Linked DNA regions of Homo sapiens: region 2 is linked to region 1. The links come from fine-mapping of genetic effects on gene expression. Tissue or cell type: nasal epithelium. Region 1 holds a variant in brackets; the other region holds the start of a gene. All regions are shown on one strand. Distances are from middle to middle.

Region 1 (8,448 bases):
CTAGATCTCAGCCTCCAGTAGGAGGGGCTCATTATCCTCTCTGCATTAGACAGGGTGGGCTCAGGATCTGAGGAAGCGGGTCTAAGTGTGCGACGTGAAGGCTTTCAGTTCCTATACTTGCTCAGGGTGAGGGAACCAGGCTGGCATTGATGCAAAGACCAAGCCTTCTGTCACTGAAGGACAAGCACGTTGTGTCTGCGAGTGGATGAGGACATAGAATCCCAAATGGCGGGAGCTGGAAGGACCCATACCCACAAGGTCTTGCCTGGGCCTCACAATGAAATTATTGGGACCCTGTGTCCCATATGTCTTGATTTCCAGCCTCCAACCCCATATGGTTGCTCTTGGGACCCAGTAGAGACCACAGTTGCTCTACCCCTGAGAAAGGCAGGCGATGGGATTTAGGAGGCCCAATCTGACTTCCTGTATGTGGTTTTTGTTGATTAGGAATAGGACTCTTCAATCTGCAGCATGGACTTATCACCCAGGCATTTGATAAAACTGTTTTGAATCAGCCCATAATCTAAGCCTGTACATTCTCTAGGGATGGGAATTCCTAAATTCACTTCTTCCTAAACTACTGCATGCACATTTGTTCCGATTTTGAAAGGAAATGCAGAATCGTTGAAAACGATGGGCATTGGAATCAGATGGCTTGGGTTCAGGTACAGGTTGAACCAACTGTGTACTCTTGGTCATACCCCTGAATCTCATTTTCTTCACTGGAAAAATGGAGAAAGGGTCATCAGAAGGCTTACATGAAGTAATGTGCCTAAAGTGCCAAGTACAGTTCCTGGCACAAAGTAGATGCTTAATAAGTGATTGCTGACTTATGCAATATTTTGTTAAGCACATAAGACCTGGGCTCTTATTTTAGATCCACCAAAATCAGACTATGTGTCTTTGGGCAGCTGCCTCTCACTCTGAGCCACAGTTGTCTTCAGTAACATGGGGAAAATAATGGCCTCCTCACCAGGCTATTGAGAAGTTTTAATGAGATGCTTGTAAAGTCTCCCAGGCTCCTCCTGGTTCTCAGGTTTAGGGGAAACTGCCTTATCGTGTAAACGATTGGAATGTGTGAGCTCACTTTCCACATCCTAACGGATATAAAAGCCTCTGATTCTAGGCTAGAAGCATTCCCCTGCCCACCTCATCCTTTTTATATTTTTTTTGAGACGTATTCTCACTCTGTCACCCAGGCTGGAGTGCAGTGGCGCGATCTCGGCCCACTGCAAGCTCCGCCTCCTGGGTTCACACCATTCTCCTGCCTCAGCCTCCTGAGTAGCTGGGACTACAGGCACCCGCCACCATGCCTGGCTAATTTTTTTTTTTTTTTTTTTTTGTAGGGACGGGGTTTCACCATGTTAGCCAGGATGGTCTCGATCTCCTGACCTCGTGATCCACCTGCCTCGGCCTCCCAAAGTGCTGGGATTACAGGTGTGAGCCACCGTGCCCGGCCCCACCTCATCCTTTATTCCCCTCTCCCTAATTCAGGTGTCATCCCCTCTCACCAGGACGGCTCCACCTGCCCTCTCACAATCTCTCCCCTGCAGTGTCTCTTGCTCCAGCTGATTTTCTCCACAGTAGAAGGACACCTAGAAGGCAGAAACCTGACCACTCTGCCCTCCTGCTCAAATCCTCCTGGCATGGCATTCAGGGTTCTCCATATTCGAGCCAGGCCAACCTTTCCATTTGCTCTCCCAGATTCTTCCTTGCAGATGCACAGTTTACATTCACATTTACGCACATCCTCATTAGGAAAAGATGCCTGGGCTCAAAAGCCGTAGGTGTATATTCTGGCCCTTGTTTGGCCATCTGGTCACCTTATACACACTGTTTCCTTTCTCTGGTTCCTTATCTGGAATGTTAAGGATTGAACTAGATGAAAGCTCAGAGTCTCCTATAGTTTGAATGTTTGTGCTTCCTCCAAAATCCATGTTGAAACAGAATCCCCAATGCAACAGTACTAAGAGGTGTGGCCTGTGGGAGGTGATTAAGTCATGAGGGTTCTATTCTCATGAATGGGATTTGGCCCCTTATGAAAGAGCTCAGGTTGAAGGGAGCACTATCTCACCTTCTGCCTTCCACCATGTGAGGACGCAGTGTTCCTCCACTCTGGAAGACGCAGCAACAAGGCATCATCTCAGAGGCAGACAGCAACCTTTACCAGAGACCAATGGCAGTGTTTTGATCTGGGACTCCCCAAACTTCAGAACTATAAGAAATAAATTTCTGTTCTCTGATACTTTGTTATAGCAGCACAAATGGACTAAGACAGGGTCTTTCAGCTCTAAGGTATTTTAACAAAATTTGATGCCCTCTAGGGTGACCAAGAATTGTTTCTTTCTTTTTTTCTCTCACCACACATAGGAACAAATACACGGATTCTCAAACACTCACATGCAAACTCTTACACAAGTACACACTTCCTAATACATAAGGACATGTGTTTTCACACAGATATTCTCACATATGCACTTAATACTCCATACACTTAAGAACTCATGTTTTCTTATAAACACTCTTACGTACATGCAAATGCTAGTCTGTCTTGTTCTCCACTGAATCTCCAGCATCTAGAGAGCAGAGTAAATCCTCAAAACTCATTCCTGGAATGAACGAATAAATGACCCTCTCTGCCCACCATATTGACACAGGCATTCACACACATCAGTTTTGTATATACAAGAAATAAGATGTGCACACTCAAAAGTGTGAGTGAATGCTGACATACATTAAATATGCCCAGCACAATCACTCCCACCCACAGACTCACATTTTATATCTCCTTCAGGGGCCCTCCCAGGAGCTGAGCTAAGGGAGACCCTTTTCTCGGTCATGCTGAAAGTTTCCTTGTTGTCAGGTTTGACTCCAGGAACATCCAAGGACCTCGCTTCAGATGTCAGAGATAACACCACAACCTTCTATTTGGACAGTCCTTTGTAAAAGTCAAATCACTTTATCAGATGATATCCCACTTGATCCTCTCAGCAGACCTGAGGGAGGCCTTTGAGCTGGGGTTATCCTCTCCATGTTACAGACAGGGTAACAGAGACCTGTAGAGATTAGGTCATTTGTCCAAGGTCAGAAAGCCAGCTAGTAAGTGAATCACCCAACCAGAACCCACCCCGCCTGCTCCCCGCCCCCCCTTCCCCCGTCTCGGGCTCTTTCCGTTGCCTCTCCCAGTGACTGGTTTAAGAGGATTATTTATTCTTCAGTTGTTTTCGCCGCCTAATTTCTGTCTTTCTTTATCCTTTTTTTATCCCCCGTTTCCGCCTCCAAAGAGTAGAGTTTCAGTAGGGAGTAAGGGAGGCCAAGTTCACCATCAGAAGAAAAATC[TA/T]AAAGTATCTTTTCCTTGTAAATCTCAGCCAAAATTCCTGCCAAATAAAATGAGAACTTACCACACTCGCACGCACCCACCTTCACAAAGAACCAACTTAACTTGCAAAAGGAACAAAGTTAATAAAGTTAATATCTACTGCAGAGAACAGAGTAAGGCCCCTCTGGCCATGTAATTTGCCAACTAATTAAAAGTTATTCAGCTTTATAATTTCAAAAATTTGCATCACTTTTAGTTGCTTGGAAGGAATTGGTAATGTGCAAGCCTATTCTGGTCATTTTGGCTTTGGGCGAGCATGTGGGCCAGTCTGCACCATTTCTTTTCCACAAAGATGGCACTGTGGGAAGCCTGGGGGCTCCCTTTGGGGCTTTGTGGACGCACCTGTAGCCTTGCTGGCACCACTCTTTCCTGGTTCCAGCAGCCCTCAGGAGAGATGGTAAGGCAGTGTGACAAGATCACTGGCTTTGGAGTCAGGCTGACTGGTTTGAATCCCAGCTTTACCCCTTAATGGCTATATGACCATGGACAAGTTGTTTAACCTCATGGGCTTCAATTTCCTCATCTATGAAAAAGCTACTGATACCACTACCTTGGAAGGTTATTATTAGAATTAGGGCTAGCTTATATCCTAGCACATAGTAGATGCTCAATAAATGGTAGATACCATCAGATTGGTCAACCTAGCACTTGATTCTACCCTGTCTTAGGTTTCTAGGTGGAGGTTGTGTGGAGGGAGTAATAGGATAGTTAGGGAAGAGGGACAGAGGAGAACCAGGTTCCATGCCTGGCTGTACAATGGATTTGGGAAACTAACCCCTCTCTGGTCTCTGCCACCCCATCCATACATCTCTAAGGGGCTTTCCAACCCTGTGACCTGCATGTTGGCCAAGGATTAAGACTGGGTCTCCTCCTATCTCTACCCTTGGGTTAGAGAAAAGGCCAGATACACAGTATCTGCTCGAAGACAACCTAGCTGTTTGACTTTGTCCACTGCTGGTCAACCAAGTCGAGAGACATGGTAGATGCAAACTCAGATATACTCAGGTCAACTGTGTTCAAGGAAGGGATGACAATGTTATCTCATGTAACTGTTACATTGAATAAGCCAGACTCATGGGGGAATAATCAAGAAACAACTTTCATCAGTTATTCTGCACTTCTGAGTCTCTTTTGTTCTTTTTGATGAAATCTGGGACTTGCTTTATGACTCTTCTGTTTTCTCTTAGGTAATACAAATTTCCCCATCTGTCTTAAATCACAAAATATTGTTTCTGCTCGGTAATTAACTTGTCTAGGATACTACTATTACTCATCTTAGTCCATTTTGTGCTGCTATAGCAGAATAACTGAGACCGGGTAATTTAGAAGGAAGAGAAATTTATTTCTTATGGTTCTGGAGGATAGGAAGTCCAAGATCAAGGAGCTGGCATCTGGCGAGGGCCCTCCTGCTGCATCGTCCCATGGTGGAAAGGCAAAGAGAGGGCAAGAGATTGAACTCCCAGCCTCACGCCCTTTTATAATTGGCATTAATCCATTCATGAGGGTGGAGCCCTCATGGCCTAATTACCTCTCATTAAGCCCCACCTCCCAACACTGTTGCATTGGGGATTAAGTTTCCAACACATGCTTTTCAGGGAACACATTTAAACCATAGCACTACTGTTAACCTATTAACAATAATAGCAGTAATAAACTTCAAACTTCCTTTAAAAGCAAGATTTTTTTTCCCCTCACTACTTGCTTGGACCTGGAACTGCTGCTGGCCTGCAGTGAGAAAGAGGCTCAATCTCCTGCAGTGAGAAAGGGGCTGTTTCTTCTTTCTACTTCTCTGTCTATGTCTTGCTAACCATTGTGGATTTATATATATATATATATATATATATATCTCTATTGTCAGGAATGGGAAGAGAAAAAGAAGGAAGAGGAACAGGAGAATTTTTACTGGACAAGTATAGAATTGAAGATACAGGGTCTCTCTGAGCTTGGCAGGCATTAACCTTACTTCTTCTTTCATTTGGTATATTTGTGGGTTCTTTGGAAAATCCCCACCCCCAACTCATGCAGGTGATCCCTGATGTGGGTAAATGCATTTTGATTCTAGCTGGCTCCTTCAGATTCCTTCCCCAGCCCCTAGGCATCTTCCAGCACCACCTGCCTCTTTATGCTGAGGTCCTTCATCCCACTAGATGGTCCTCTGACAGGGTTTAGGAAGACTTAGACCATCTCTCTGTCGTGTGTTCCAGATCTAGTTCAAGAAAACACATCTGCATTCTCTACCTTGATAAACTGAGAATTTACATTGTCCCCAGTGCAGCAACCTCCCTTTATTCTTCTGTTGGGCAGCTGGTCAGCCGGCATCTAACCTTTTACATTTAGCAGTGGGAATCAGATTCTAGTTTACAGTATCCCCCAAATATAGGGAAAACATCATGTTCTCCAACTATCCCATTAAAGTCACTTTCCCCGGGCTTGAGTTAATGGAGGGAGTGGACAAAGACACACGATGTACTTACAGCTCTTTCCAGAAAAACCCTATCTAATCCCCCACTTTGTTCTTGGCCTCTCCCACCTCTTTTATATGCCAGAGTTGAGTAAGGATCAGCAAGGAACCTCAAAAGTAGTTTTTAATACAATCTTTTGCAGTTCTTACAGGTTGGTCCTACACTGTACTTGCAGAGGTGGTGTCCATTATCTTGGGGCCTCCCATGAAATGTGGACTAATGTAGTTTATGTTTTTTTTCCAAGGCAAAACTCTGAGGTAGATATTGCTACCTGTATTTCATGGTTGAGAAAACAGATTGGGAGAGGCTAAGCAACTAGCTCTAAGCATACAGCTAGTGGGGATTAAAAACCAAGTTAATCAGATCAAAACCTGAATTCTTTTCATCCTACATGAAGATTGAGCTTTACCTCTATAGCAGCTGGTGGATATAAAAATGCTTGAGGGCCTGCCACACAGCCAAGTTAAGCATCCACATCACAATCGAGTGTGACTGTCAGCTCCTTATTAATCTTGAAGCATGTTCCTATCCATGAACTCATTTGCTGGGACATCATCCAGGACAAGAACCTTCCCAATGCCCATTGAATTGCTTTTGAAGAACCCAGCAAATAAAGTCTTTCTTGTGCTTGACCCAAGCATTGATTACCTCTTTCATTTTATCCCTACGGTTTTTAGTTAATTTCTTCTGCTTTTCAGTTCTGCTGATTATTATGTTGGAGAGAGACCCTCAATTAACATAATCTTTATAATCACCAACAACATGTATTTAAAAAGTGTTCATTTGTTTGTAACATCTGCCTTTATCTTGTTCATCTCTGTGTCTGCAGCAGTCTTAGTACATATTATTACTCCATAAAGGGTAGTTGAATTAATTCATTAGCTAAACAGAGTTAATTTAAGGGTGGGTTAGAGTTGGGGAAGGAGAATGAGAAGGAGGGAAATGCGTACCTATGGGAGCTGTAATGTCAACCAACCATGGCTCATACTCCCAATTCCCTGGGCATGCCTGGGTAAGGGTCTGTTAGCTTCAACTTTCTCACCTGACCAACAGGGATAAGGGTCTCCGTCCTGTCAGCCTCACTGGGAGTGTAAGATGAACCTCCAACAAATCATCGAAGTAGAAAGACATAAAAAAGTATCACACATGTGGGTTTAGTCTGGGAAAACAAAACTTCTGACTCAGCCTGGGTCTCCTCAGACAGTGGGCTAGGAAGACCCAGAAAACCACTCTGGCCTGTGTGAGTTGCAAACAGAGGCTTCTACTTTCTGGGATAAATTATCCATGAGGCAGAGGCGTCAGGGCTGTCTGCTCCCTGTCTGGCCTCCTTTGCCATCTCACTTCATGAGGCATAAATCCCCAAGACTCCCCAGTCATTTCTTATCTGCGTCAGTGTTTATTTTTTTAAATTGTGTTCCGCCCTCTTTTCTCTGCTTGCTATTTTATAGGGATATGGGCCAGGAGGGCAGAATCCAACTACAAATCTCACAGCTCTCCCTGCTGAGACGTTGGGACAGAGGGAGTGAGCTATGGTGGTCTGAAGCGTAGATGTTCCAGCAAGGGCCAGAGAAAGTGCCTTGGGGTATTTCCTGAGAAGTGGGGCTCTGAGATTTGCTCTCCTGGTGTGCCCAGACCTCAGAATGCAGAATCCAGAGAGAACAGAGAGTGTGCTCATGAGAAAAGGACACCAGGTGTGCTATTGGACTCATCTCCATCACACCTAGCTGGGTGACATTGACTAAGCTACCGAATGTCTCTTAGCCTCATTTTAGTCTTTAATGGGCATGACAATAACTCTTAAGGTGATTGTGAGGATCAACTGGGATGACCCAGGCCACTGTGTCTAGCATACCACCTGCCATGGGAGGTGTGCAGTACACATCAATTCCTCTTATCTTCAGCTGTGATTGTGAAGTAATGCATTTATCATCTAGTGTTCCTCAAGACTCTTGAATGTAAGCTCCTTCTAGGCAGGGACTTTGTCTGGCTTGTTCACCCCAGGATCCCCATCACCCAGTAGAATGCCTGACATATTATCTGTGCTCAATCAACGTTGGCTGAATAATGAATGAAACCAAATTCTCCATATGATTTCCATAGGCACAGAGAAATTTCAATATGAGAACATTGCTACAGAGACATACAGACATTCGGAATCAGAAAGGGCTTTTGAACAACATGCAACTTGAGGTCTTCTTTGTTGACAGGAAGACGCTTAGGTTCAGAGAGGGAAGACACTTGGCCAGGATTCCACCAGATGTTAGGGCTGGAACCCAGCTCTTCTGACTCCCCATCTGATGTTCTTTATACTACATTATGCTGTCAGTCATGTCTTTAAGGTAGAAGAGAAGGGTAGAGAATTATGAAACAGAAAAACCTAAGAAAAGGAAAGCGAAGGGAAAGAAAGCATTTCCACTCAAGTTGAGAGAGAGACAGATAGTCAGAAAGACAGACAGACAGACACAGATATAGAGAAAGACAGAGAGACTCAGGACTGGGACCTAAGAGGAATTAAATCCAAAACATACTATGTTACATGACAGACAGCCTGAGTGTTACTTCAGAACACTGAGAACTCTCCCCTCATCGTGGGCTCAGCAGTGCCCT
Region 2 (6,412 bases), 78 kb before region 1:
TGATGCTCTGAGGGAAATTCTTTCTGCCCAGGCAAGCACAGCAGGTGAGGAGTGTACATCCCCAACATGTAATACTGCTGAAATAGAAGCAAACACGCAGACTCTTACCCCAAATTCCAGTATACGCCACTCTCAACTGATACCACCAGAGCAGCCAGGTGCTGCCTCGCTGCCCAGCAGAACCTCTCCTTCCAGAAAAAGGACCTGACTCTGGCTGCCTCCCCCTCCCCCTCGGAGAAGAAAGACAATCAGAGAAGAGGACCCAGGTACCCAGGGCTGTCAGCTCCGGGCTGGGGCACTGCATGCCTACCTGGGAGAAGTTGAGCCCGTTGTTGAGGGGATGGCACTGCTCCTCCACCTGCTCCACAGCCCCTGTGGTCTTCTTCATCTTCTCAGCCTGCTGGGCCAGGTAGAGGTCGAGCACGGGCACACCACGGAAGCGCACGTCCCTCTCTGTGAGCGAGTTTACCATGAGCATCACCCAGACGGGCCTCTTGCGCTCCCAGTTGCCCGCGATGGCATTGAATAGGTAGTCAGCATAGAGCCCCTTGCCCCGCTGAGCGGGCGTCATCCAGGAGGGCATCATCAACTTCACGTAGTCCAGGTGGCGCTTCAAGCGCCAGTAAAGCTCGTGGGGCAGCACGTCCTGCAGGTTTTCCCCGTGCGGCAGCAGCTGGCAGCTGGCCAGGGCCGAGATGGTGTAGGGGTCTGTAAGGTCCAGCTCAAAGTAGACACGGGTGCTAGCCTGGAAGGCTGCCTTGGAGTTGTCCGGGATGAAGTCCCAGACGCGGGTGTAGGGGACGTGAATAGTGCCAAACAGGTAGGCCGGAGGATCACGCCGAATCGTCCACAGGAAGGAGTTCAAGTCCCTCTGCTGCAGGAGTAGAGAAGAGGCAAGGCAGTGAGGCCGAAGGCAACAGAGTAGAGTCAGGGTAGCCCAGAGGCACGTTGCAGAGGGAGGTGGGGATGGGAGGCAGAGACCATACACAGGCCGTGGTAAAGAGCCAGGTCTTTGGAGCCTGAAAGACCCACATTGAAAACCTAGCTTTGCCCTGTCTTAGATGTATGATCTTGAGTGAATCATTTCACTTCCACAGGCTCAGTTTCCTCATCTGTAAAATGGGGGTGAAAGCAACTACCTCGGGTTGTTGGGAGGATTAAAAGATACAATATATGTATATTAAGCCCTCAGAGCAGTGCCAGGTACAGAGGAAGTCAGCAATGAAGGGAAACTCTCATGATTAGCGTTCCCTGTGAGTGCCAAGGACTGCCACACCACCTGAGAATATTCATGCTTGGCCAAGTCAAACCTTCACCGGTGGTGTTTCATGCGGAGGGTGGGGAAAGGAGGACCAAGAGTCCTGCTCTGGCAAGAAGGGAGGAAGTCATATAACTTTTAAATCCAACCATTAGAAGATATAAGCCAAGAGCACTTTGAAAGCAGAACACCTATTAAAAATAGCACACCTATTTAAACAGCTACTTCACATTCATCACGGTGAATACACTTTTCTTTTTGGAGGGCAGGTCTGGGGTGTCAGCTACTTTGCTCGACCAGCTGAGACCATAGATGAGAAAGTGCTTTAAAATCTTGCAAGGCCAAGTCAAGTTTCAGAATCTGGTTTGGGAGGAAAGGATTCCATTACAATTAGTCCCAAGAAATGTACATATTCTGGGTACTTTCCAGGCTCCTCCCCTAAAAATGTATACCTGATTTCCAACCCCAGTTGTTTGTCATTTTCTATGACCTAAGCTCCGACTTAGGGGAGTGTGTGTGCGTGTGTGTGTGTGTGTGTGCGCGTGTGTGTGTATGTAGGAGCTGAAGAGAGGCATGCAGACAGGGGTCCTTTCTACAGATCCAAGTCAGGGCTAGGCATAAAGGGCAAAGCCATTTTCCAACCAGAAAAATCCCTGGAGTGCCCACTGACCACTTGCAAGCTTTAGACCAACTCATAACACTTTTCTGCCTGATTCTGGCACAAATGAAAAGTATGTGTTGGGATGGGTGGGTTGTGGGAGAACAGTACCTTACTTTACTAACAACCCCAAACTGTTAATCCCAGCATGTTGGCGATAGACTGAGAGCCCAGTCAGCCAACGAGCTCCCTGTTTGTGCACAAGGCAGGCTGCTGGAGGTGCACCTTGCCCAAGGTCAGCGAATTCCGGGCTAACAGGCAGCACACCTACAGCAGCCAGACCCTATGGTCTCCTGGCCTCCAATTCAGGGTTACTGTCAATGCATTAATTTACACTTAGAGGGAAAGATACTGAAGGAAATAAAGAGGTTCTTTGTTTTGGAAGGAATATTAGGAGAACCAGTAATTACTCGACCCCAAGAAATATTAGGCCAGTATGTCCTGGCATTGCCTTTTCCTCTCCTCTGAAATCTTCCCTCTTTTCACGAAATATGGACGCTTGGGAGAGTAGGTGGTGGGAGCCTGGGCCGCAGAGATGGAGGTGAGAACGAGGAACAGGGAGAAAGTTTGTCTTAGGTCAGAGTGGGAGGGCAGGGAGAGAGAGGGAAGCCTGGGAGGGGGCAGAGTGTGTGAATGGGAGAGCAAAAGGGTTCGATGGAAGTCAAGAGAAGGGCAAGGAACGGTAGAAAAACACAGTCAGAAGCGGGCAGAGAGACCAGAAGGGTAAAGACAGAAAAAATATGAGAAAGGAGAGACAAAAAGGGGCAGAGAGAGAGGAGGCGTCCAAGCAGGACCACAAGTCAAGAGGAGAGCCCCAGAGCGGCAGCGTGTGGAGAAGGAACCGGAGAGGGAGCGCCCCTTCTCGCTCCTGGCTGGGAGCTGGAGCCGGGACAGGCAGGAGCGAAGGAAGGGCGCCCGAGGCTGCGCCCGGGGGGTGGAGGTGGAGCGGGCGGGCTAAGGTGGGTGCGGAAGCAGGACCCAAACCATGGTCCCACGGGACTAGAATACCCAGGCAGGCGGGAGAGTGGCCGGGCAGGCGCTCGCTCACCGATCCGGGCGGCCGGCACTGTCCTCCGTCCGGGGGCTGCGGGCGGGCGCGAGCGGTGGCGAGGAGGGCGGCGAGCAGCGGCCCCGCCAGGGCGGCGTGCATCCTGCCAGGGCCCGCGGGGCGCGGGGGACCCTCCTGGGCGGCGCCCCTCAGCGGGGCGGGGAGCCCCCAGTTGGGCACGGAGTTTCCTCTGGAGCACGGGGCTCCAGCCGCAGGATGCTGGGCGCCCTCTGGGGCGTGGCTGACTGTCCCTGTCGGACCTGGGGGTTTCTCTGGGGCCGGGCTCCGTCTGTTGGAAGAGGGAGACCCTCTAGGGCTGGGCCCCTCCCCCGGGCGCTCAACCTCGCTGGCCGAGCCCCCGGGTGCTGAGGGCGTGTTGGGGTCCGGGGGCGCGCGGGGTCCCGGAGCTGCGTCGCGGTCCAGGGGCGCGCGGGGTTCCTGGGGCAGAACCGAGAACCCGGGGTGCGCAAGGGTCCCGGGGTTATGCTGGGCACCCGGGGCACGCAAGGGTCCCAGGGGTGCGCGGCGCTCCAGGAGGCGCGCAGTGGGACAAGTGCGGCGGAAGGCGCGGCAGGGGTGGGGGGCGGCTCTGGGGCGACCGGCTGCCCCCGAGCCCGGCTCAGAGGGGCGGCGGGCGGCCGCGCGGCCGCTGCCCGGGCTCCGCCATGCTGCTCCGCGGCCGGGAGGGAGGGAGAGAGGAGGGCGGGAGAGCGGCGCGGAGCCGGGCCGGGCTGGGGGCTGGGGCCGCTGGGGCGGGGGAGGGGAGGACCTGGCGCGGGGGGCGGGGGGGCGAGGGGCCGGGGCCGCGCCGGGCCGGGCCGGGACGGGCCGGGCGGCAGGGAGTCAGGGCTAGCTCCGCGCCCGGGCGCGGCGAGGCGGGGTCTGATGGGCATGGCAGGCGCTCGCTCGCTCCTCTCTCGCTCCCTCGTTCGCTCCCTCACACGCGCGGAGGGAGGCGAAGCCCGCAGCAGCCACTTCCCAACTTTCCAAACTTCCCAGCGCAACTTTTTCCTCCCCTCCCCTGCCCGCGCCTCCTCCTCCCCCATCCCTCCTCCTTCCCTTCGCCAGGCGCGACCGGGCCGCAGCTTCCCCGTGCGGCCGCCAGAGGGCGCCCGGGCTAAGGACCCGCTCGGCCAACCTCCGCCGGCTCGGCGGCGGACGCGGACTGGTGGCAGCGACAGATTTGGGGACCAGCCTCGCCCAACGCATCCGTCCCGCAGATCCTGGCAGGAGCGAACAGCGAGAGGGACAGGAGTTGGACTGGGGAGGCAGCAATCACACAAAATTCAGAAAGCTGCTGTGTGCAACCTTATGTCACGCGTAGCTCTGGGATGCGCTTGGTAGATGCTCTGCAAACACCAAATGTAAAAGAAAAGAAAAGAAATCCTCAAAATTCCTTGGAATCTTCCATTTAAGTAATCCCCTCTTATCTATGTCCTTGGACCCACGCAGGATCCCTGTGTCTGTCTCTGGAAGAGTGAGAATTGATATCCCAGTTTCTTAGACCACAAGACTTGAAAGACCCCTTAAACCAACCTACCCTTCCTCAAGAGGCAAATGAGACTTAGAGAAGGCCAGAGCACAAGATCTAAGCTTCTGAGCCGTTTCCAGCAAATGAAGAAAGGGAGGCACAGGCACCCCTGCTTGGTTCTGTTAAAGGAGAGTTTGTCGTCTCTTCCTATCCTGACAACAAAGATTGACAGATGAATTAGGTCATACTGTCAGGAGCCCACAGCCTAGAGAAGGAGACAGACAGAGACAGATATGCAAAGACGCCATTAAAATACAGATGATGAGGGCCAGGAGAGACAGAAGCACAAGGAAATGGGAGCAGAGAGGAAGAGCTCCTAACACAGCTCAGAGGCCCAGGGAAGACGCCTGGGAGATGGTCTTGAAAAATAAGTCAGAGGTAGCTTAGAGAAGGAGGTGCACATGCCTTCCAAGCGGAGGAAGAGCAGGTGCCAAGGCGCAGCAGTGTGAGAGCACACCTGCAGGGGACTGCAAGCAGTTACCCATGGCTGCGGCAAAAAGCAAGTGGCAGGAGCTGAAGTTGTGTCTTCTGGCCAAGCTGGGGAGTCTGTCCGTTCTAGGTATCAGGTCATAGGAAGTCACTGCAAGATTTGAAGTTTAAGGTGGCTAGAGTAGATCTGTGCTCATCGGGGGCATGAATTGGAGGGGGCAAGTTGGAGGCAGGGAGACCAGTGGGCAGATAGTCAGTGAGGAGGGAGCCAGAGCCCAAGCCTCGGTCTCCTGACTCCCAGCCCAGTGTTCTCCCCACTTCTCCCACTCATGCCTGCAGGTACCAGATTGAGCAGCTAGAAAATGACCATACTAGAAGGCTGAGTGAGAAAGACCAAGCAGGGCTGGAGGGCCAGAAAGGTTTTCCAGAGCACAGGATCTGGGTGGTTGGGAGGAACACGGGAAGGAAAGAAGGGGACACCAGAGACTGGCAGGTTTACCCTCATGTGCACATGAAGTTGCCACTTTTGTAAGTTACAAGTGAATGCATGTTGGCAATTTCATATGGTTCAACTTACTGGGTGTCTGGAGCAACCTCAGCCTCTTAGCTACACACACACTTGGTGACAGACACCAAGCAGGCCAGAGTGCCCAGACGGTATGTATGAGAGCACAGGACAGCGCCATGCTTCCCACACACAGAGCTCTGAGACCTGCAGCTCTGACAAGAGATGTCCTTTAAAGAGTCTCCACTTTCCGGAGCTCCAAAACTCCCTACAAGGTCACCACTCTGCTGGTAAGGATGAGGGGAAGTGAGAACTGAATTCCACTGGAGGGAGGGTCATGGTTCTCATTGGAGAATTAGAAGACACAAGTCAGATAGTGGATAAGAAAGAGCCTGATCAATTTAAAACAATGATGTGTGTAAATATGTGTGTGGATTTAAAAAACCTTCCCCTGCTGTATTGTAAACAAAGTTTCCCTGGTATCTTTTTTCCTAAAATTATAAAAGTTTTGTTGGCTAATTTTCATGAGTGTCAGCTATGACTTCCTCCTCCATGGTACACGTGGTGACTGTGACCAAGGCAGGACAGTTAGCTTTTCTGTGCCTCTCTTTCCCCAGCCAGTTTCCTGTCCCCCTCACTTTCTGTGCGTCAATGTGTGCAATAATGTCTTAAGATCTTTACCAGTATTGTTACTGATATTCTTAAAGAGAAGCAAGAACAAATAGATTTTTCTGTTCCTAGATATATACCCAAGAGAACTGAGGACATTCATCGACACAAAAACTTCTACGTAAAGCCTGATAGCAGCATTATTTATTATAGCCAAAAGGTGGAAACAACCCAAGTGTTCATCAACTTATGAATAAATTAACAAAATGTGATATATAAAAATATCATATCATATGCTAAATATATACATTTAAAAAACATGTTATAGTCATATGATGGAATATTATTTGGCCATAAAACAAAATGAAGCACTG

What was found. PIP is the estimated chance that this variant, and not a neighbour inherited with it, causes the effect.
Region 2: TRABD2B starts here. The variant in region 1 is fine-mapped to the expression of TRABD2B in nasal epithelium (TOPMed, PIP above 0.99).

What each region holds. Positions count from the first base shown.
Region 1 is chr1:48,070,852-48,079,299 of GRCh38, forward strand. The region is part of intron 4 of LINC02794 (long intergenic non-protein coding RNA 2794); the gene reads left to right. Among named protein-coding and RNA genes, the nearest start is that of LINC02794, 25 kb to the left of the region's middle. The variant TA/T (reference allele first, on the strand shown) is at 3,340.
Region 2 is chr1:47,993,724-48,000,135 of GRCh38, forward strand. TRABD2B (TraB domain containing 2B) reads right to left here and starts at 3,662. Exons shown (of 7, transcript NM_001194986.2): 1 at 2,965-3,662; 2 at 311-874. The coding sequence starts at 3,066. RefSeq lists an enhancer at 4,154-4,203.